Linked DNA regions of Homo sapiens: all the other regions are linked to region 3. The links come from fine-mapping of genetic effects on gene expression. A gene starts in region 3. Each other region holds a variant in brackets. All regions are shown on one strand. Distances are from middle to middle.

Region 1 (5,012 bases), 64 kb before region 3:
CTATCATTGTAGAAAATTCTATTGGACAGTGCTGCCCAACAGAATTTGATGGACAAGAGGCCTTGGAATGAGACTCCTACGCACCAGAACCCTCTCTCACTCCAAACAAGAAACACACCCCACCCACTGTACTACTGCCCATCACACCTCTGAAGTGTCCTTGCAGGAAGTTAGTGAATCATTTCCAACAGAGCCCTTGCTAGCGCTTAAATCACCACCAAAATCCCTTCCCCTTCCAAGGTCCTGGTGGCCTCGGAACCCCCTTCTCAGCCCCCTACCCAGGGCCCCTATCTAGCATGAGTTGCATCTGGAGGTAAAATCTCAGGGGATTTCACACCAATGCAGTGCCATGTTATGGCCATTGAGACAAGTACACAAAAGAAACCCAGAGAGAAAGCACACTCACCATCCTACCACGGAGCTAGAACCAAAGCTCACTCAACAAAAATGGAGCTGAAGGAGTCACCAAAGGGAAGCTCTGTACTTCTGAAGTCAAGGTACTTGAGTACTAATCCCTTTCTTTTCTCTCTGGTTTCACCAATCTGATCATCTGTCAATTAGGTTTCAGTTTGACCTGTCCCTCATTCAACACCATCTCATAAAACCCACCTCTCCTGTCTGTGTGATGGCTTCTGCTGAAATACATCCAAATAAACACAGGCAGCAACAGACCAGCCAAGGCTGTTCAGATAAGCATTTTAGATCTCAACCAGCAGGGATGTGTGTTGGTGGGTACCCCTGTGACAGGGAGTCTCAGTCTCCTCCAGGAGTCATGGGGGGTGGGGGGAGGCTTCAGGCATGACTTGTCTAATTGGCCTACAAAAAGAATTACTTACTCTCCACTTACCTTTGATTACCTTTAAAAAAAAAAAAAAAGGCTTGCGGGGGGCCTTCTAGGTACAGAAATTCTGTATTCTCCATTCCCCAATCCCCAGGCCTGGTTTTCTAAGATAATTTTTAATATTGCCAGAATATTAATGCTGAAGGGTTTTATCTAAATCTTCTCCCTGATCTGACGATATCTGACAAACTCATTACTCTCTTGGATTTTTGGCTGGAACTGGAGCTAACACATCCTGCGGGCTGTCATACACATTCAAGACTCTTCCCATCCACAGACCATAACATGTCTCCATTTCCAGTTTGGCAAAATTTTTTAGTCTTTTTTTTTTCTAAATGAATGTCAGGATATAATCTGGATACATATTAACATGCACAGAACTGAGTCCAAAAACGCTTTGAGGCCAATTTTTAAAATCATATTTTCTAAATTAAGTCATCAACTTCCTGTGCTGGGAAGTGATCAGTTGGTTGGGGAGACCATTTTATTGCCTTAACTTGGTATTTTCTGTGTTATCACTGCAAGCTTACAAAGCCTTAAGAACTTAAAGCCTCGCGAACTTAAAGAGCTAACAAGCCTGTGTGTGGCTCACGAACCCCACCCCTGGTAGTTCTCAGAACCCAACATTGCAAAGCCAGCAGCTCTCTCTAGTTCCCACCTTTCTCCAAAATATTCTCTGGAAGGCATGAGCCTCTGCATCCCAATTCTCTCCCATTTGTCAATCAAACCCAAGGAAACTCCTTTCCAAATGGCAGTGTGGCCTGCAGCTGGCCAGAGAACAAAGCGGGAAGGCAAACAAAGAGCAAAGGGCACCGGAAAACTTTAAAAAGGAGCCTTTGTTGAAGCTTTGGGGGTTGGGGGGCGGTAGGGCAGGGTGTGGAGGGAGATGGGGATGTCTATCACTCCAAAGGCCCTACTGTGGGATCTCCAGGCGGGAATAACCATCCTTCAAGGGCTTTGCTTTTAATAAAACCTAATTCTCAGCCCATTATCTCCATTCCTTGCACAGAGTGGAGGGGCTTGGGATTCCCCAGGACTGAGCAGCGTGTGGCTCCCGCCTGGGCCTGCACCAGGGTGGCTATGACATGGGACCTAAGGGAAGGAGAGGCCAAATGCCTGGGTGAGACCGAGATCTGGAAACATGCTGGTCCCCGCCAAAATGTAATTCCAAATAGAAATAACAGGGAACCCTAAAAGTGATCTACAAAAGCCCTGCCCCAAGGTTCTGATTTTTCTCCCACATGACCACTGTGATGCGTTTAAATCAAATCAACGAATCAAAATACCTAGGTCTTATCTAAATCCTGTTGAATAACACACAAAATAAAACAAAACTCATGAAATAAACAGGAAAATGTGAACTGTGAATATTTTATATTAGGAAGTGCCTTTTTAAGTAGCAGTATGGTTTCCTTTTTTTTTTTTTTTTTTTTTTGAGACAGAATTTCACTCTTCTTGCCCAGGCTGGAGAACAATGTCGCAATCTCAGCTCACTGCAACCTCCGCTTCCGGGGTTCAAGCGATTTTCCTGCCTCAGCCTCTCCCGAGTAGCTGGGATTACAGGTGTGCACCACTACGTCCGGCTAATTTTGTATTTTTAGTAGAGACGGGATTTCACCATGTTGGTCAGGCTCGTCTCGAACTCCTGACCTCAACTGATCCACCCGCCTCAGCCTCCCCAAAGTGCTGGGATTACAGGCATGAGCTACCGCCCCCGGCCATGGTTACTTTTTAAAAGGCGCATTTATCTTCTGGAGACATAAAGATGCCATCTTAAAGGGGTTTCACATTTAGAGGAGCAGGAGAGGAGGCCATGTGAACAGCCCAGATTGTTGGAGCCAGCGGGGACCCACCAGGGCCATCATTCTCCCCCTCCCCTCGCCATTTCCAGGGTGCAGAGCTAGACAGAACTGGACCGACAGCGTGGGCCGGTAGACGTCG[G/A]CGTGTGTCTACACCACGGCCTCTGCACACCCACTTGCTTCCTCCCCACACCGCGATCTGTCTACACCAGGGTCTCTGCTTACACCACCGACTGTGCACCCACGCACGGCGCGGCAGCCCCTCCGCCCGAGTCACAGCCTCTTCCTGCCCTCACGAGGGGACCCGCGACCACCACTCCCCCGCCCCGCCCTTCCCGGCAACCCCCGGCCCGGGCTGCTCCGGAGGGTTAAGCTATCCCTGACCACACCGCCTCTACTCGGGAAATACAAACCAAATTCCGCTCCCGGGATGAGGTTTCTCTTCTCCTGAAGAAAATCAGGTTTTTCAGCTTGGGGGTGGGAAGGCCGTAATTGCAGGACTCAGGGGTGCTTTGCCTGCAGCAGGGAGATTCACAGATGAAAGGAAAAGATAACGTTACCTGCTGGGGCATCTTTCTTCTCACCACAGGTCACGAACCCACTACTTACCATTTAAGAGCCCGCAGGAGAGGATTCCTAGGGATATATAAATACAGACCCAGAAGGGACTCCCCTGACAGTCAGACTGCCTGCCGTGTCTTTTATCCAGGACTGTCGGGAAATACAACCTCTTCAAAAATCCCGAGTGAGGCCGCTTTCAACTTCTCTGGCTCCCAGAGCAGATGCACAAAGGCAAGGCTTGCTAGGACCCCTGCGGTCGAGGGCCTTGGGTTGCTACTCCAGGTGACAGCCTCCCATCCTAGGCAAAGGGTACATTCGTGGGGAGGAGGAAATCTTTTGAGAGTTCCATTTCTAACATCCAATTATTTGAAAGTTGCCATCGGTTTTATAGGTTTGGAAACACAGTATTTTAATTTGGTATGTAATATTTCAGATGCATTCCAAAAAAGTGAATGAACACACCAGGCCAAATGAAAGGCTTATTCTTTTCTCGAGCCCCCCTCCAATGGCACCCACAATCCTGAGTTTATATTAATATAGTACTTCCCTACAGTATGTATCCCAGAGCAGTACGCAAGATTTCCTTGCATAGGTTTAACCTTTACATAAATATCAAGCCTCCTACAACTTGTATTTCCTGCTCAATGCTAAGCTGTGAGATCTATGTTTGAACATGTGGCTCCAGTCAATAAATATATCACAAGTTTTTTCCCACTGTTCTGTGGGTGAACATTTGGGTTACTTGCAGTTTTTGCAAATTCCAAAGCTGTTATGAACATTCCCCTTATGGTTTCCTTGCGCCCTTATCTGAGGGGTTCTCTGACCTATGCCTGGGAATGCAATTGCACTGAGTAGGAGAAGCATGATTCAGCTTTTCCAGTAATTGCTAAATTGCCCAATAATGTAGGTATAACGGGGCGTACAAATTCAACGCCCTCCAGCAGCTTCTTCTCTCCATAACACTTTTTTTCTCTTTTTTTTTTTTTTTTTTTTTGAGATGGAGTCTCACTCTGTCGCCCAGGCTGGAGTGCAGTGGTGCCATCACAACTCACTGCAACCTCTGCCTCCCGGGTTGAAGCAATTCTCCTGCCTCAGCCTCCTGCGTAGCTGGGATTACAGGCACGAGCCACCACTCCCAGCTAATTTTTGTATTTTTAGTAGAGACGGGGTTTTGCCATGTTGGTCAGGCTGGTCTCAAACTCCTGACCTCGTGATCTGCCCGCCTCGGCCTCCCAAAGTGCTGGGATTACAAGCGTGAGCCACCATGCCCAGCCTCCATAACACATTTTTGCCAACACTTCGTATTGTCAGACTTCTATATTTTTGTAAATTTGATGGCATCAATGCTTTTTCTAGACTTTTGTGAATTTGATGTTACTTCCTTGTGATTTTAACTGTGTTTCCCAGGTTCATGAGTGTTTGGAAGGTCTCCTCCTAGTGAACTGCCTGTTTATATTTTTGAGATCCATTTATTTAGAGCATAGCTGAACATGGATTTAAAGACTTAAAGGTACAAACAATGGACTACAAACACCACTGCTCAATGGGAAGCAAATAGTGCCAGATTAGAGGACGCAGATGCAGGAACACACCTGGGTAAGAATCACAACCTCCTCTTCCACTGGACGCTGATACCCTCCTGCAAGACTCAATGAAGACACCATTTCATCCTAGATCTCTAGCCACTACTGCAAGACACTCCTAAAACTCCTTCCTGGCTTAATGTCTCTGTCCTACCCAGGAACAAGTGAAGCCAGGCTGGGATGCGATTGAAGCTGTAATCAACACTTCTGCCTCCCTGCCCATGCGTC
Region 2 (5,012 bases), 48 kb before region 3:
AGTATAAAATCTACATTTGACCTGTGAATGCAGGCTTGATAATTTAGTAAAACATTAATCGATAAGTACCTAGAGACCAAAAGAATGCCAGCCTGGAACCCACTAGATGCACTCACCAGTAAGATAAGTTTTAAAGCCTGCAAACTGACAGACAGCAAGTCAGCAGGGCTCCAGATAAGCCTCCCTCCAGTGCTGGGCAGGCCCCCAGATAAGCTCAGGATGCAGCGGGTCCCCCAGGGCCGCCAGGGGGTGGGGGGCAGGGCCCCAGCAGCCTCGCATCCAGAGGCCCAAGCGCAGAAGCAGAAGCAAACTGGACGCCGCAAGGGGCTGCAGGAAGGGCAGACGGCAGACGCAAGTCCTCCAGCTGCCTCCCGCACAAGATGGTCAATGACAGCGGCTGAGAGGCACAGCAGGCAGCCGACCCTGGCGCAGGCCCCCCCACGCAGGGAACGGTGGCGGCGCGGGGCAATCCTCCGGCTGCCTGGAGCAAGAGAGGCTGGCAGGGACACGAGGGCGCCGGGCCTGCACGTGGGACCCGCAGGAAACAAGAAATGAGGAAGGCACCGCGTGGCATCCAGAACATTCAAAAGCAGCCAAGGAGGCGGGAAAACGACAAGCTTCTGGAAGAGAGTGCTGACAGTGAACCAGGACAGGCCCCAGGAGAGGACTCCTCGCGGGGCACGTCGGTTCCATGGACTGGGGGCAGCTGGGCCGCCAAGGCCACTCCCACCTAGAGTCAGCACTTGTCACAAAACCACAGGCTTAAAAGTCCTTCAAATTGTCAGGACCATTAGACCCACTTCACACCTCAATTCTGTGCAAACAGAGGCATAGGTTCCAGCTTGAAGGGAAAAAAATAATAAGCCAAGAATGCACATCTGTTTTTAAGAAGGAAATCCATTATTAATTAAAAAGAGCAACTAGGAAGCAAAGTTCTGGGAACTGAAACACACATCGTTTAATCAGATACTGGACTATAAATCCCTTTTCTGGGCAGATTGTTTTTTAAGCTGAAGGGTTTTTAATGTGTACTACGAGGAAGCTGCACAAGGGGCCCCTCAGCTCAGCCAGACTGAATCCAGAGCCAGGAAGGTCGGGCAGAATCCCCCTCCACTCCACCATCCTTCAACTAGAGAAAAGAACTGTCTTGTAAAACTGTGTTACTTGACAGCCCAACTATATTCTTCTGAAATGCAAACTATACTATAAATAGGTATACTATGTTACATGGTATGTATAACACATAAATTATACAGCATATTTAGTATAAGTTAGACTATCTCCAACTGTACCCATGGGAAATGCAAATCTGCATGTCAGTAGTTTGTGAATGTTTCTGATACCTGTGGGATATCATGAAACACCAATAACTAGGAGGTAGTGATAGTTTACTAGTTGCCTCAAGTATAATCAAACCAACAGTGTCCTTCCTCACTGGCTTATCTTCCCACCCACTTAGAACTAAGATCTTTGTTTTCCAACAGGAGAAAAGGCTCACGTCATTTCAAATGTGGGCTCAGTACATTATCTGCCTTCTACAGGGGGTTAAAAATAAAAGTGCTCTGGGATGGGTGTGGTGGCTCATACCTGTAATCCCAGCACTTCGGGAGGCTAAGGCAGGCGGATCATCTGAGGTGAGGAGTTTGAGACCAGCCTGACCAACATGATGAAACCCCATCTCTACTAAAAATACAAAAATTAGCCAGGCATGGTGGCATGCGCTTGTAATCCCAGCTACTCAGGAAGCTGAGGCGGGAGAACTGCTTGAACCCAGGAGGTGGAGGTTGCAGCGAGCCATGATCTCACGAATGCACTCCAGCCTGGGACTCCATCTCAAAAAAAAAAAAGAGTGCTCTGAAAAAAAAAAAAGCAAAAAATAAAAAGGAGCTTTGTTTATTTTTCCATAGCTACTGTGTGAGGAAAAGTCAGTTGTACCTTTGCCAGGTGTAGGTGGGGGGGCCTACCCTCAATTCTGGAGCAGCAGGCCAACAGAGCCAGAGGCACTTGAAAAGAGGCCATTCGCACAGAATACCTCCCTCAATTCATTCAACCAGTCCCAACATTTAATCCACACAACGGTTAACATTCCTATTTTTCAGATGCAGAAACTGGGGCTCATGGAGATGAAATATTTAGTAACTCACAAGGGCTCCCCACCACAGATGACGGCCTGATTCATCTAAGTAGTCAACAAGTAAGAGATGCATACTCACACAACAAAGAAGAGGAAGGAGAAACAATTATTTTTAAAGGTTTTCTCAATTTTCCTTTAATTCTTTCTTCATAGTAGAAATATCTCATTTCTAAACCAAAGCTCAATTTCTATCCTCAGGTATCACAAAATGAAGTAAACTTCCCCTTCGCTGTCAGGGTCTTTTCCCTTCTTTCCCTCCAGGAAACCCAAATCCCAGGCCCTCCATCACCTCTCCACCAAGCCCACCCTGCTTGTACCTCTCACAGCCAGGGCCTTCCCACGCCTCAGGCCCCTACTGAAAACAGATCTCAAAAGCAGTTCCCGATGGGGAGCTGGGTGGTCGTGGCTGTGAGCCGCCTGAGACCTCCTGAACTGCCAAGGATCTCCGTTAACACCAAGGGCCCTCCTTGGGCGACCCTGCCCC[C/G]ACCCCCAACAGACACCATGGGGCCCTCCCTGAGACATCCAGCATCAGTTGGAGAGCTCAGTCTCAACTGAAGCAACAAGAAAGGGACACTGTTAAGCTCACTGTAAGAAGAAACCGCTTCATCAGCATGGAGTTAATATGTAAACATTTTATCTGCACTGGCAAAACAAATGACTATTTAAAAACCATATCCTTAGGAATGGAAATCTGACACATGCTGCAACATGGATAAGCCTCGAAGGCATGCTAAGGGAACCGGGCCAGTCACAGAAGGACATAGACTGCATGTTCCACTTCTACAAGGTCCCTAGGGTGGTCAAATGCATAGAAACAGAAGGTAGAATCGGTGGCTGCCAGGGTCTGGGGGAGGAGATGGGGGAGGCATTATTTAATGGGTGCAGAGTTTCTGTCGGGGATGATGAAATGAGTTCTGTGGATGGCGGTGATGGTTGCAAAACAATATGAATGCATTTAATGCCACCAAACAATACTTATGATGGTAAATTCCATGATATGCATATTTTACTATGATAAAGAAAAAAATACATATACTTAAACAAAAGCAAATAAAAAAAATACATGTTCTCCCCTAAAGTATGAGTGCATGGAAAATTAAAACTGCCACATCCAGAGAGCAACAGGATTTTTTTTCTGTGCCCCTGACTGCAGTCGGCCCAGGAGGAACCCAGATAGATGCTGCATGGAGGGGTCTCAGATGCCCACACCCCAACCCGCTGGCTTCCCCTGCCCAAGAAAGTCTGGGAAGGGTGATCTGCTCCAGTTCTTCCCATCGGGCATCAACTCACTTCTACAACACAAGCCCCCAAAATAAATGGAAATGAGGCTGCTGGAGTGGTCTGTGGCCCCAAGAAGTCGATTCGTTGTGTCTTTTTTTTTTCTCCTCAAGTCAAAACTTAAGCCATTCCTACATCTCCAAATTCTTCCATGGAGTATTTTCAAGGCAGACACTTCTGGAACAAACAACCCCAACCTAAATATTTTCTGTAAAGGGAAGAACAAAGATTTTCTCCTAAACCAGCCCCTAAGTCAGCAAATGGGAAGTGGTTTCCCCACATTCTCAACATCCCCAAAGGGACAACTGCCCACCCCTTCCCGGTGAGCATTCGACAACTCTGTAGACAAAGAGGAACAAAAACAAACGCAATTGGCTTGAGACGGGGTTTACTAGGAGCTCATAAAAATACCTCAGACTGGGGTCGTGGAGAGAGTCCACGGCAATAAAATGCCCATACTTATTTTACGTATTTAAAGGGATATTGCTGCATTCTCAAAACAATATCCATTTAATTTCCAAAAATACAGTCAGTGAACAGCTGAAATATTTTTAAAGGAGAGTGGTTTTAGATATTCAAAGAAACATGTGAACCATCCCACAAGGTAGGAATCACTGCCCTGACAGGTCATCCTTTTTTTTGATTTTTTGTTTTTGTTTTTGTTTTTTTTTGGGGGGGGGGACAGAGTCTCGCTCTGCCGCATAGGCTGGAGTACAGTGGTAGGATCTCGGCTCACTGCAACCTCCACCTCCCAGGTTCAGGCAATTCTCCTGCCTCAGCCTCCCGAGTAGCTGGGATTACAGGCATGCACCACCACACCCGGGCCCAGGTCATCCTTTTTTAACCACAAAGCCAGATTTGGCACCAGGGATCATGGAAGGATCCCGGGGTGAGGAGGTTCCTCAGATCAGAAACTCAGAGCTCCCTGCCTCCATTGTGCCTTGTTCACCTGACCTGAGGATGCCACAAGTTTAGCGGGTGGAGCCCACTGCCCTCCTAGCACCAAGAGCCCAAGAATGTTCCAGTCAGGCGGGCTCAGTCCATAAAGGGCTGGAAGGCCCAAGGGCTGGGGTAGGGAGCGGTAGGACCTGCGCCACGACCAACAGGCCATCGCCCTGGAGAAAAGCCATCCAGTCACAGCCTGGAGAGACCAGGCAGAGGGTGGCCCAGCCTTGTGGAGCAAGGAAGTGGAATCAGGCTTCAGGCCCATGGTGGGGGTGCCTTGGCGCTTGGAGCAGCCACCAACACTATAGGAGGGCACCCAGTGGCAGGCAGCAAGACACACAGGATGTCCCTTCCAGGCTGTAAAGATCCCATCTCCACCCCAGCGCCCTGGCTCCTACGCTCCACTGCTGGCTTTGGAGGCCTCCTCGACTCTGCCACCCGTGGCCTCAGGAACCTCTGGTTCCAAGTTAATGAGGCAAAGCCTCCAAAAAGGGAAAAAACAAACTGCTCATCACTCATTATTGCCTCCATTCTGGCTTACTACCTGGGACGGCTCCAAGGTGCACAGCTGCAGAACACACGTGTGCGCACACACACCACACACACAGCACATACACCACACACAAGACATACACAAATGTCACATGCCACACAA
Region 3 (5,012 bases):
GAGAATTATATCCTATGCCCTCTCCTATAAAGATTATGAGTATTTCACTAGAAAAAGAACAGGGTTCAAAAATTAAAGAAAACGACTCCAATTGCTTTGTTCATATAAGACATTTGTACATTCACTGGAAACTATGAGTGTTTAAATTCCTTCACCCAAAACTCAAGGAACTTTCCTGTTACAACCACCTTGGCTTAAGCAATGGACCCATCATGCTTTCCTCATCACCCATCTAAAAACCCCCACCACAGCACCGCCCCTCAAAGGCTGCGCTCAACCCTCATGGTCTGCAAGGCAGAGTTTTTGTAGGACAATTAACCGCAGGGTGAACAGCAAAAGCCGCCCAACAGCACGTCCAGCAACGTGTTTAAGCCGCCTCCCCGCCACCCCTCTCCCCCAGCAAAGGGATCTCCTGGGAGATTCTTGGGGGAGGGGTTGCAGAAATCGACAGAGGTCTTGAGTGATGGATACCAACTTAGAATGTGGTCTACTTATTTTATTGTGCACTCTGAGCGGTTTATGCTTTAATGCACAGTGAGATAAACGCAAGCTCCCTTCCCAAATCAAGTAATTAGGAATGTCTGACGTAATCAACATCTGCTTAAACTAAAACCCCCCCCCAGGAAAGACTGTGCAGCCTTTCTGACTCGCGTACCTTGGGCCGGCTAGGGCGGCAGGCCAGGATACCTGGAGCGCGCAGCTCCCAGCAGGACGCAGGAAAAGCAGAGCGTCTCCCAGCCTGCGACTGTCCCGATTCTCACCTTCCTGCAGGAGTGCAGGGATGGGGGATACTGAAGCCCATTTACTAGTAAGAAGTGTCTCACACATTCCGGGGGCTTCAGGCGAACCCCATAGGTCTCTGGCGCTCCTGGGCCTGAAGGCCCCGCCCGCCCTCCTCCACCCCCGCAGGGTGCCGAGAATCCGGCCCGAGGCGCGCGGGCGGGAGGTGCTCCCGGAGTCTGCACCGCCAGAGCTAACGCCGCCTCCTCCAGGCAACCTAGGCAGGTCCCAAGCTGCACTTCCGAACCTCCCCGCCGTTCCTCTGCGCCCCGGATCCAAGCAGCCGAAACCGCGCAGGGACTCGGGGGAAGTGGGGCCCCGGGAGGAAACCCACCTAGGAGCCGGGCCCCGCCCCTCCCGCCGCCAGCCTCCTACAGGTCCCGGGGGTCCCCCCGGCGCGGCCAGAAGGCGGCCGCGCCCCAGCCGCTCAGGGACCCGCGATCCCAGTCACAAACCATTTCAATCCAGATCACACACCACTTCGGCCACCCCAGAGCGGTGGGGGAGAGGAGGTTTCAGGGACCAACAAAAGGGATGCCAAAGAGCCCGTTTCCATCAAGCGGCCCGCGGGCTGGGAAAGTCAGGACCCGGGAGCCGCCGGCGCCCCCACCCCCGCCGCAAGAGCCGCTTCTCCGGGGCCACGTCCACCCCAGGATTCTGCCAGGCATCAGGCCGCCCTGGGGGTGGGGGGACGCTCCGAGACAGACGGGGGACACTCGGGGCCGTGTGCCCTTGAAGGAGGAAGACCTCGGGGAGGAAGCCCGGGTCCTGGGACCCTCGGGGCACATCTGCGGACTCGGGTCCCGGGCCCAGGGCGGGTACTCACATTCACACTCGCACTCCCACTCGCGACCCTCGGGAAGCGCCACCGAGAGGCTCCCAGCCGCCGCCGCCCGCCCCCAGACTCTGGAAACACTTAGGCGTCCCCAGAGCGCGGCTTATTGTAACCAGCCCGAGGGGGTCCGGGGTGCGGGCCGGGAGCGGCGTCGGGCGAGATGCGAATGGCCCTGCCTGGCGCCCCTCGTTCAGGAGCATGGGCGCCGGCGCAGCGGCCGGGAGCATAGTGGCGGCGGAAGGGCTGGCCAAGCGAGCCGTGAGCTACCGTCTGCGCACAAGCCGGAACGCCAGATCCTACCTGAAGTCCGGGACACTGAGAGCAGAAGCGCGGCGGCCGCCCAGACGGCCGGGATGCACAGCAGCGGCCGCCGCGGGAGCGCCGAGCCCCGGGCCATGCCGCAGGCAGTGGGGGCCGGGAAGCCCTCAGAGCTTCGGGCCGGGGCGCGGGGTCGGGCGCCACCACCCCTTTCTACGATGCGTCCGCTCCTCCTTCTCCCTGGCGCTTCGCAAACGGGTCCACTTCGAGGACCTCGTCGTCGTCCTCTTCTCCGGCCCGGATGCGCCGCTCGGCTCCGGCCACGGCAAGGGCTGGCTGGGGAGGTTCCTTGGCGCGGGCTGGGGCGTCCCGCCGGCCGCCAGGACGAGCGCGGGGGGCGGACCGCGGGCGAGCGCGCAGGAGGCAGGGTCCCCGCTCGCCCGCCCCGATGGGCAGAGCGAGGCTTGCGCCGGCGCCCCCTGCCGGGGGAACGCGCGGGCGGCGGGCGGGACCCAAGGAGCTGGGGCTGCAGCTGGGGCCCCGGACCTGCCTCCTGCGCCCGCCCTCGGGCCTGCGCCTCGGAACGCTTGAACACAAAGGTGGCGCCTTGGGGGCGTCAGCCGGAGTTCGGCGGGTCTGCCCACGCAGGAGAGGCGCCCAGAGCGGGTGCCCCCGACTTTCGGGGGCGACACACCCGGGGATCTAGGTCACAAATCAGTAACTCCAGGCTGCACTGCGCACCGGGACAAATCTGAGAGCCACCCAGCCCCAGACACCAGCGGTGAGGCAGGAAGAGGAGAAGCGAAAGTTGCAAAAGGAAATGTTCAGGAAAACAAACAGGCCGCCTTGGCACCGGCGCCCTCCCAGGTCGGTGGGGACAAGCGCGTCCCCCGAAATGCTCAAAACTGCCAGGGGTCGAGCTGCGTGGAGGGAGCCCTCGGGAGCGCGATGCTATCCGAAGCCACCGCGGCTTTTGGTTTACTGTTAAAAGCAAATTGTATAATTTTACCCATTAAAGGCAGAACACTATTTGTTCTCTGCAGAGGCCCAGAATGTGCAGAATTTGCTTCACTTATTAGAGACATTTTGAACGGAATTCAAATAGCATGTTTTCTTGCTTATTCTTGGTTTTGCTCAGCACATGCAAATGTCTTTGTTTTTCCTCTTAGAGGAAGGAATTGGATTCTCCAGCATCTCAGTTGCTTGTTCCATGAGATTGATCTTTTAACTGATTATCCAGCAGTTTGTTTGGTGTTTTTGCTGGAGTACCAAGCTCTGTTAATTGGAGGGCATTAGGGAGAGCCCTGGCCTTGGGTGCCAGACGTGAGGCCTCAGACGTGGCCAGAAATAAAAACTCTCTTGCTATGGTCTGCGGACAAAATGACTAAGCCAGCTCTAGCTTGTTACCTCTGTTAAAAGTATTTAGGCGTCCGGCTATCTCTACCCAATTTGTGTAGGGAAATATCTCACGCAGTTCTCATTCCCAGGAGCTGCTGTAAATCCAGTAGGAGAATGGGAGAAGATCCTAGCCCCTCCTCAACTGGATGGCAAAATTATTACCAAACTTCTTAGACGGGCTCAGGCTGTTCCTCTGCCCAGGCTGGTGCGGGTCTGAACGGGGGGGCTGCTCTCCCCAGTGGTTAGAGGACTGCCAGGGGTTTATCTTTGGGGTTTTCCTCCCTTTAGCTTCCCTTAGAATCCTTAAGGATGCTTTTAGAGTAATGTTTTAAGAGTAGGTGCTGAAGCACTTAGTTCCACACCCCTCTCTTCTGGATCTAGGGAAAACCCAACAGGGGCTGCAGAGAAGGGTCTTGAACCTGCCCTGGAAAACCCCTCCCTCAGCAATGCTGTGTCCTTTCCGTGGTGCTGTGCAGCTCGGAGAAGGTGGTCCCAGCACCTTTGCTTTCCACTTCACACAGCGTGAGCATGTGGCTCCAGAACCATTTCATCAGCAGCCCTGCCATTTATTTTTGTGTGACCTTCAGGAAAATGACCTCATCATGCCCCCATCTGTGTGTTATTTTCACATGACTGAGGCCCCACAAACCCAACTCAAAGGTTTAAACAGCAACATATATTTTGCTGACAGTTTCTTGGGTGGAGTCAGAAATGTGGGTTATATTGCATATGATTTCTTAAAAGCCTTTTAAAGCTTTCTTTTTTGGCATTTCTCTCTCACTCTCTCCTTCCCTTTCTGTAGGTTCTGAACTGAAGGATAAACAAAAAAAGCAAAGTTGGAAGGATGAAAATACAAGCTTTCTCAGTGGTTAAGAGAATATGGCTTACGTCCAAGGCCAAATTGGAGCAACATATTCCTTTCCATCTGTATTAGTCATCAATTGCCACATAACAAATTGCCCCACGATTTAACAGCTAAAAACAGTAAACATTCGTTATTTCACACCATTTCTCTGGGTCGAGAAGGCAGGAGAGACTTAGCTAGATGGTGCTGGCTCAGGGTCTCTCAGGAGGTTGCAGTCAGATGTCAGCCAGTGCTGCCATTATCTGAAGGCTCGCTGGGGCTAGAGGAGTCTCACAAGGTGGATTACTCACATGCTCAGCAAGTTAGTGCTAGGTGTGGATGGGAAGACTCAGTTTGTAGCCACGTGGGCTTCTTGGGCATCCTCACAAGATGGCTTCTAGCTTCTCCCAAAGTGAGCAATCCAAAAGAGAGCCAGATAGAAGCCACAGTGTCTTTTATAGCCTAGCCTTGGAAGTCACATGCCATAATTTCTGCAGTATCTATTGGCTCCATGGGTGGGCCCTTTGTCATAGAAGGAAACTAAACAGGTTTATATATACCAAGAGATAGGAATCACTGGAGGCTGACACCACACCAGCTGTATGGGGACAGCCATTTTCATCCTTGTGATGAACAGCAAGCAAGAGGGAGAGAAAATGAGCAGGGTCTATACTAGCAAGACCGGCGGGAACAAGCCCTTGCAGGCCTTAAGAAAGGAGGGAGCCATGCACATATCTGGGAAGAGTATTTGAGCTGGAGTGAAGAGCCAGTGTGAAGATTTCAAGGCCAGGGGTATCCTGGGATATCTGAGACCTGGGTGGTTAAATTATGTGGTTTAATTCACATTTTCCTGATGAGGAGTCATATTCTATATTTTTTCTTATGCTTATTGGCCGT
Region 4 (5,012 bases), 27 kb before region 3:
GCCAGAGACTGTTTAGGATAGCCAAGCCTCAGACAGCTTGTGTGCAGTATCATTGCCAACAAACTGGACCTCCACCCGAGGGGGTGAACACAGCACTGTGGAGTGGACACTCATGTCCCATCCTCAACCAGGTGCCAAATGGCAGGTGGCCAGCCACAAGAAGTAGCGGACAGGAGAAGCACTGTCCCTTCCCCACAAAGGGTCCCACAAACTGGCCCTGGGCATGTCCTAGTGCTCTCTGACCTGCAGGAAAAAATGAATCAAGACCTCAACCCCATATCAACAAAGAAGTGGCTACTTCAGCCTAAGTACATGCAAAATCAGTCCTTCTTTAATATAGGGGAAAGTTAAAACAGGAATTCCAAATTAAAAGTAATTATATTTTTTCCTCCGTTCTTAAATATATACACGTATACACACACTTACATATATGGCAAAAGTAAAGCAGAATCAGGAATAGAATGCAGAGGCTGTGGAAATCCCAAACCACACTGGCAAAAGAGGACACTTTTCAAGAGCCTGTGCTTAATTGCAGACCAAGCCGCAGGCCTCTTTGTGTCACCAAGTTCTTCCCTTCTAACTTCAAGGGGATGGTAATGTTTAGTCTTTTAAAAGTAAATGAAGCCGGGTGTGGTAGCTCACGCCTGTAATCCCAGCACTTTGGGAGGCCCAGGCGGGTGGATTACTTGAGGTCAGAAGTAGGAGACCAGCCTGGCCAACATGGTGAAAGCCTGTCTCTACTAAAAACACAAAAGTAGCCAGGCGTGGCGGCGCACGCCTGTAGTCGCAGCTACTCAGGAGGCTGAGGCAGGAGAATCGCTTGAACCCGGGAGACAGGTTGCAGTGAGCCAAGATCGCGCCACTGCACTCCAGCCTGGGCAACAGAGACTCCGTCTCAAAAAAAAAAAAAAAAAAGTAAATGAAACTCTAACAACAATAATAAAAAGACAACCCAAGGTGAGATTGGGCAAAGGATCTGAATAGACATTTCTCCAAAAAAAAAAAATACACAACTGGCCAAAAAGAGCATGAAAAGATGTCATCATTAGTCACTGGGAAAATGCAAATCAAAATCACAATGAGAGACCACTCCACAGCCATTAGGACTAGGACGACTATTACCAAAAAACCAAACAACAGCAACAACAACAACAACAACAACAACAAACAACAACAACAAAAACAGAAAACAAGTACTGTTGAGAACGTAGAGAAATTAAAACCCTGGAATACTGCTGGTGAGAATACAAAATGGTGCAGCCACTGTGGAAAAGTCTGGCAGTTCCCCAAAAAAAAAAACATGGAATGACCATGTGATCCGAAATTCTACTGCTAGGTATGTACCCAAAAGAAATTGAAGACTTGTGAATGAAATGTTACTTGGAAATCAACAGCGTCTTCTCTGAGTCCCATCTTCCTTGCAATCAAATAAGAAACAGGTTAAATATCAACAGTTTGATGTCCATACTGAATGTTGTTCTACTTAAATAATTTTTTTATTTTTTATTTTTTGAGATGGAGTCTCACTCTGCTGCCCAGGCTGGAGTGCAGTGGCATGATCTCAGCTCACTGCAACCTCTACCACCCAGGTTCAAGCGATTCTCCGGCCTCAGCCTCCGAAGTAGCTGGGACTACAGGCGCGTACCACCATGCCCGGCTAATTTTTTGTATTTTTAGTAGAGACAGGATTTCACCATGTTAGTCAGGATGGTCTCGATCTCCTGACCTCGTGATCCACCTGCCTTGGCCTCTTGAAGTGCTGTGATTACAGGCAGGAGCCACCGCGCCCGACCAAGAATATTTTTTAAAACTATTAGATGGGAATCTTCTCCAAAACCTGTCGACTCCTCAGTGTCCTCTCATGTCAGGCTCTCCAAATCAGCTGCATAGCTGCTGCATCCAACCCCAGTCCAGCTGCTCAGCCTTTTGCCCTCCTTTCTGGGTGCACACTGGGGCAGCCTGCCTCTCAAAGCCCTGTCCTCCAACAGACTCACTCTGCCTCACTTCTGCTGGGCATGACCTCCCCACTCCCCACTGCCCAATACAGCTCCATTCCATCTTCACATACATAAAGCCTCTCCCTCATGCCAAAGAATAGATGTCTGTTACCTAAGTAGCTATGCCAAGGAATTCAGTGATCACCTGGACAGAGAAGATGCCCAATGTATTTTATTCAATAAGCTAACAAGTTAGCAGCCTCTAGGCACAGAGCAGGTGCTCAGAAAGTACTTATGACTGGCCAAAATGCTGGGGATGAGGCAGTATAAAGCAGCACTGCCCAACTTGCTGTGAAGAGGGAGAGTGTCTCTATCTCCACTGTCCAGTGTGGCCTCCAGCCACATGTGGTATGTGGCAACTGAGCACTTAAGTTTGGCTAGTGCAGCCAAGGGTCTGTTTGTAATTTTATTCAGTCTGAGTTAACTTCAATTAAATAGCCACATGTGATTAATGGCTATCAATTGGACGGTACAGCTACAGAACAATGCACACCCTGGGCATCCTCCTATATCCAGAAATACCCAAGGT[A/C]AGGAAATTTGCAGATGGCTAATTTAAGACTTGGCAAGCAAAACAAAGCTCTGGAGACCCAGGGTTGAGGAAATGTGCAAAACTCTGAACAAAGGCTTTCTTTTTAAAATTCACATCTAAACCATAACAGGACCACAAATATTACATTTTTTCTTTAGCAGTAATCAATAACTCATCATTTATTTCAAGTTGACGCACTGACTTTAATATTTTAACCCTCACATGCAATTTTACCAAAGTGCTTATAAACTTGTTGCTTGTTGCAAATAATGTACACACAAGGAAGGCCGTTTTCAGGATGGCATGGCTATCCGATGAGTCAGTATCTTTTTGATCTGAGAGATTCCAAGCTCCCTGAGTTCCTTGGTGGTCCCAGAGATGGAGGAATGCAGGTGTCGTTCTTCAGGTGGCAGAAGTGTTGGGTCAACTGTCCTGTGTGGCTCCTGGAATGAGAGCCGAGGAGAAATCAGGGCACATGGGTGCCTTCCTATTCCAGGGTTTGAGGATGTTCTCATGCATCCCAATTGCAGTCCATACTTGGACCCTCATCAGGCCCTGAAATCCGTCTCCACTACAACATTGGCAGCTGATTCTTTCCTGCTCTCCCCAAGCTGCTGTTCTGCTGCCTGTCTGCACTGAGTAGAACTGAGCTGGTACTCCATGAATGGGAGGGACACTTGAGGGCAAGGTCTTTGTCCTCCATGGTAGGTGATCCCTCCTGCTGCCCAGCCCTTTTCCTATCCTTTGTCCCCACTCCCAACATCAGGCATCCTGTGGTCACGCTGGGGACTGCCCGGCCATCCCTCCTAGTCCCTGCGGTGGAGAGAGGCAAGGGGAGGACTGGAGGAAGGTGTCCATCGGGTCTCAGTCCCTTGTGGTGGAGTGACAGGCAGCTTCAAGGCCAGTGGCTTCTGCCTGCGTCCTCCTGTCCCAGGCCCTCTATGGGAATCACAGCCAGTGGATCTCAACTTTTACGTGCATTAGAGAGGCACAGATTGCTGAGTTCACCTCAAAATTTCTGATTCAGGCCGGGCACGATGGCTTACGCCTGTAATCCCAGCACTTTGGGAGGCAGAGGCGGGCGGATCACGAGGTCAGGAGATCGAGACCATCCTGGCTAACACGGTGAAACCCCATCTCTACTAAAAATACAAAAAACTAGCCAGGCGTGGTAGCGGGCGCCTGTAGTCCCAGCTACTTGGGAGGCTGAGGCAGGAGAATGGCGGGAACCCAGGAGGCGGAGCTTGCAGTGAGACAAGATCACGCCAGCCTGGGCGACAGAGCGAGACTCCATCTAAAAAAAAAAAAAATTCTGATTCAACAGACGCGGGGCAGGCCCAAGAGTTTGCTTTTTTTGTTTTGTTTGTGTGTTTGTTTGAGACAGGGTCTAGCTCTGTCATACATGCTGGAGTGCAGTGGCACAATCATACCTCACTGCAGCCTCAACCTCCCAGGCTCAAGCAATCCTCTCACTTTAGCCTCCCAAGTAGCTGGGATCACAGGCACGAGCCACCACACCTGGCTATTTTTTATTATTATTATTATTTGTAGAGATAGGATCCCACTATGTTGCCCAGGCTGGTCTCAAACTCTTGGGCTCAGTAATCCTCCCATCTTGGCCTCCCCCAAAGTGCTGAGATTACAGGTGTGAACCACTGCACCTGACCATGTTTGCATTTTTAACAAGCTCCCAGGTGATGCTGATGCCAGTGGTCCAGAGACACCACTGAGAGAACCATCGCTGTAGGGCCCTAGTCTTCTAGAAGAGGACACCCTCATGACACCAACCATCTGCTCATCTCATAGACATTAACTTACACAGCTCTCAAGAACGCACTTCCCCCAAGATACAGCCTTCAGCCATCCCAACAGCTCAGCCCAAGCCCACGAGACCCAGCCCCCAGCTCGGCAAGCTCTGTCCTTGCTCAGCACAAGTGAGCTCACAGGTACACACCCCTGACAATGCTGTCAGCTGCCTGTATGTGTGTGTGTGTGTGTGTGTGTGTGTGTGTGCAGCATGCATATGCACTTGTTTTGGTGCCTGGCACATGCACCCATTTCTTCTCAAACTTATGACTTACCTCCACACAAGCCCCAATTCCCAATGCCCTCGCCATCCTTATCCTCCAACCCCAAATACATGCACACACCTAAGTTTCTTGGATGGCAGAAAACCAACAGATGGATAATCCATAGGAACTCAAATACAGAGTAACAGCAATCCTATGTCAAGAGTGCTTGCCAGAGAGCCAGAGAGAAGAAAACTCGCTCACTCTACCCTTTCATTGCACAGAATTTGGGGGACCGATCCTGAGGTGTGACACCACTCTGGGTTCAACAGACACCTGGGTAGAGAAGCCACCAACTGACCTCAGAGATGGGGTTTCCTCCTGGTGAGAAACAAGTCACTTGGCTTCCACGCACTCTGCCTAATTTCTCCTGCATGATTTGCGTGCACACTTAAGAAGACATCCTAGGCCTGGCGC

Direction of the effects. Positions count from the first base shown, and alleles are read on the strand shown. Sizes are in standard deviations (SD) of each study's normalised expression. Not every link is listed here.
In carriers of allele G in region 1, the expression in prefrontal cortex of the gene that starts at base 2,277 in region 3 tends to be higher than with A alone (moderate effect, 0.60 SD a copy in ROSMAP).

What was found. PIP is the estimated chance that this variant, and not a neighbour inherited with it, causes the effect.
Region 1: its variant is the best candidate, but not a certain one, in a credible set for the expression of ROR2 in prefrontal cortex (ROSMAP, PIP 0.58).
Region 2: its variant is the best candidate, but not a certain one, in a credible set for the expression of ROR2 in thyroid (GTEx, PIP 0.57).
Region 4: its variant is the best candidate, but not a certain one, in a credible set for the expression of ROR2 in subcutaneous fat (GTEx, PIP 0.73).

The regions. Positions count from the first base shown.
Region 1 is chr9:91,883,615-91,888,626 of GRCh38, forward strand. All of the region lies in intron 1 of ROR2 (receptor tyrosine kinase like orphan receptor 2), which reads right to left. Among named protein-coding and RNA genes, the nearest start is that of ROR2, 64 kb to the right of the region's middle. RefSeq lists enhancers at 1,863-2,446, 2,447-3,030, 3,031-3,612. The variant G/A (reference allele first, on the strand shown) is at 2,783.
Region 2 is chr9:91,899,969-91,904,980 of GRCh38, forward strand. The region is part of intron 1 of ROR2 (receptor tyrosine kinase like orphan receptor 2); the gene reads right to left. Among named protein-coding and RNA genes, the nearest start is that of ROR2, 48 kb to the right of the region's middle. The variant C/G (reference allele first, on the strand shown) is at 2,619.
Region 3 is chr9:91,947,952-91,952,963 of GRCh38, forward strand. ROR2 (receptor tyrosine kinase like orphan receptor 2) reads right to left here and starts at 2,277. Exons shown (of 9, transcript NM_004560.4): 1 at 1,916-2,277. The coding sequence starts at 2,012. RefSeq lists enhancers at 1,068-1,569, 1,570-2,069 and silencers at 2,263-2,442, 2,556-2,850.
Region 4 is chr9:91,920,960-91,925,971 of GRCh38, forward strand. The region is part of intron 1 of ROR2 (receptor tyrosine kinase like orphan receptor 2); the gene reads right to left. Among named protein-coding and RNA genes, the nearest start is that of ROR2, 27 kb to the right of the region's middle. RefSeq lists enhancers at 1-670, 671-1,511. The variant A/C (reference allele first, on the strand shown) is at 2,527.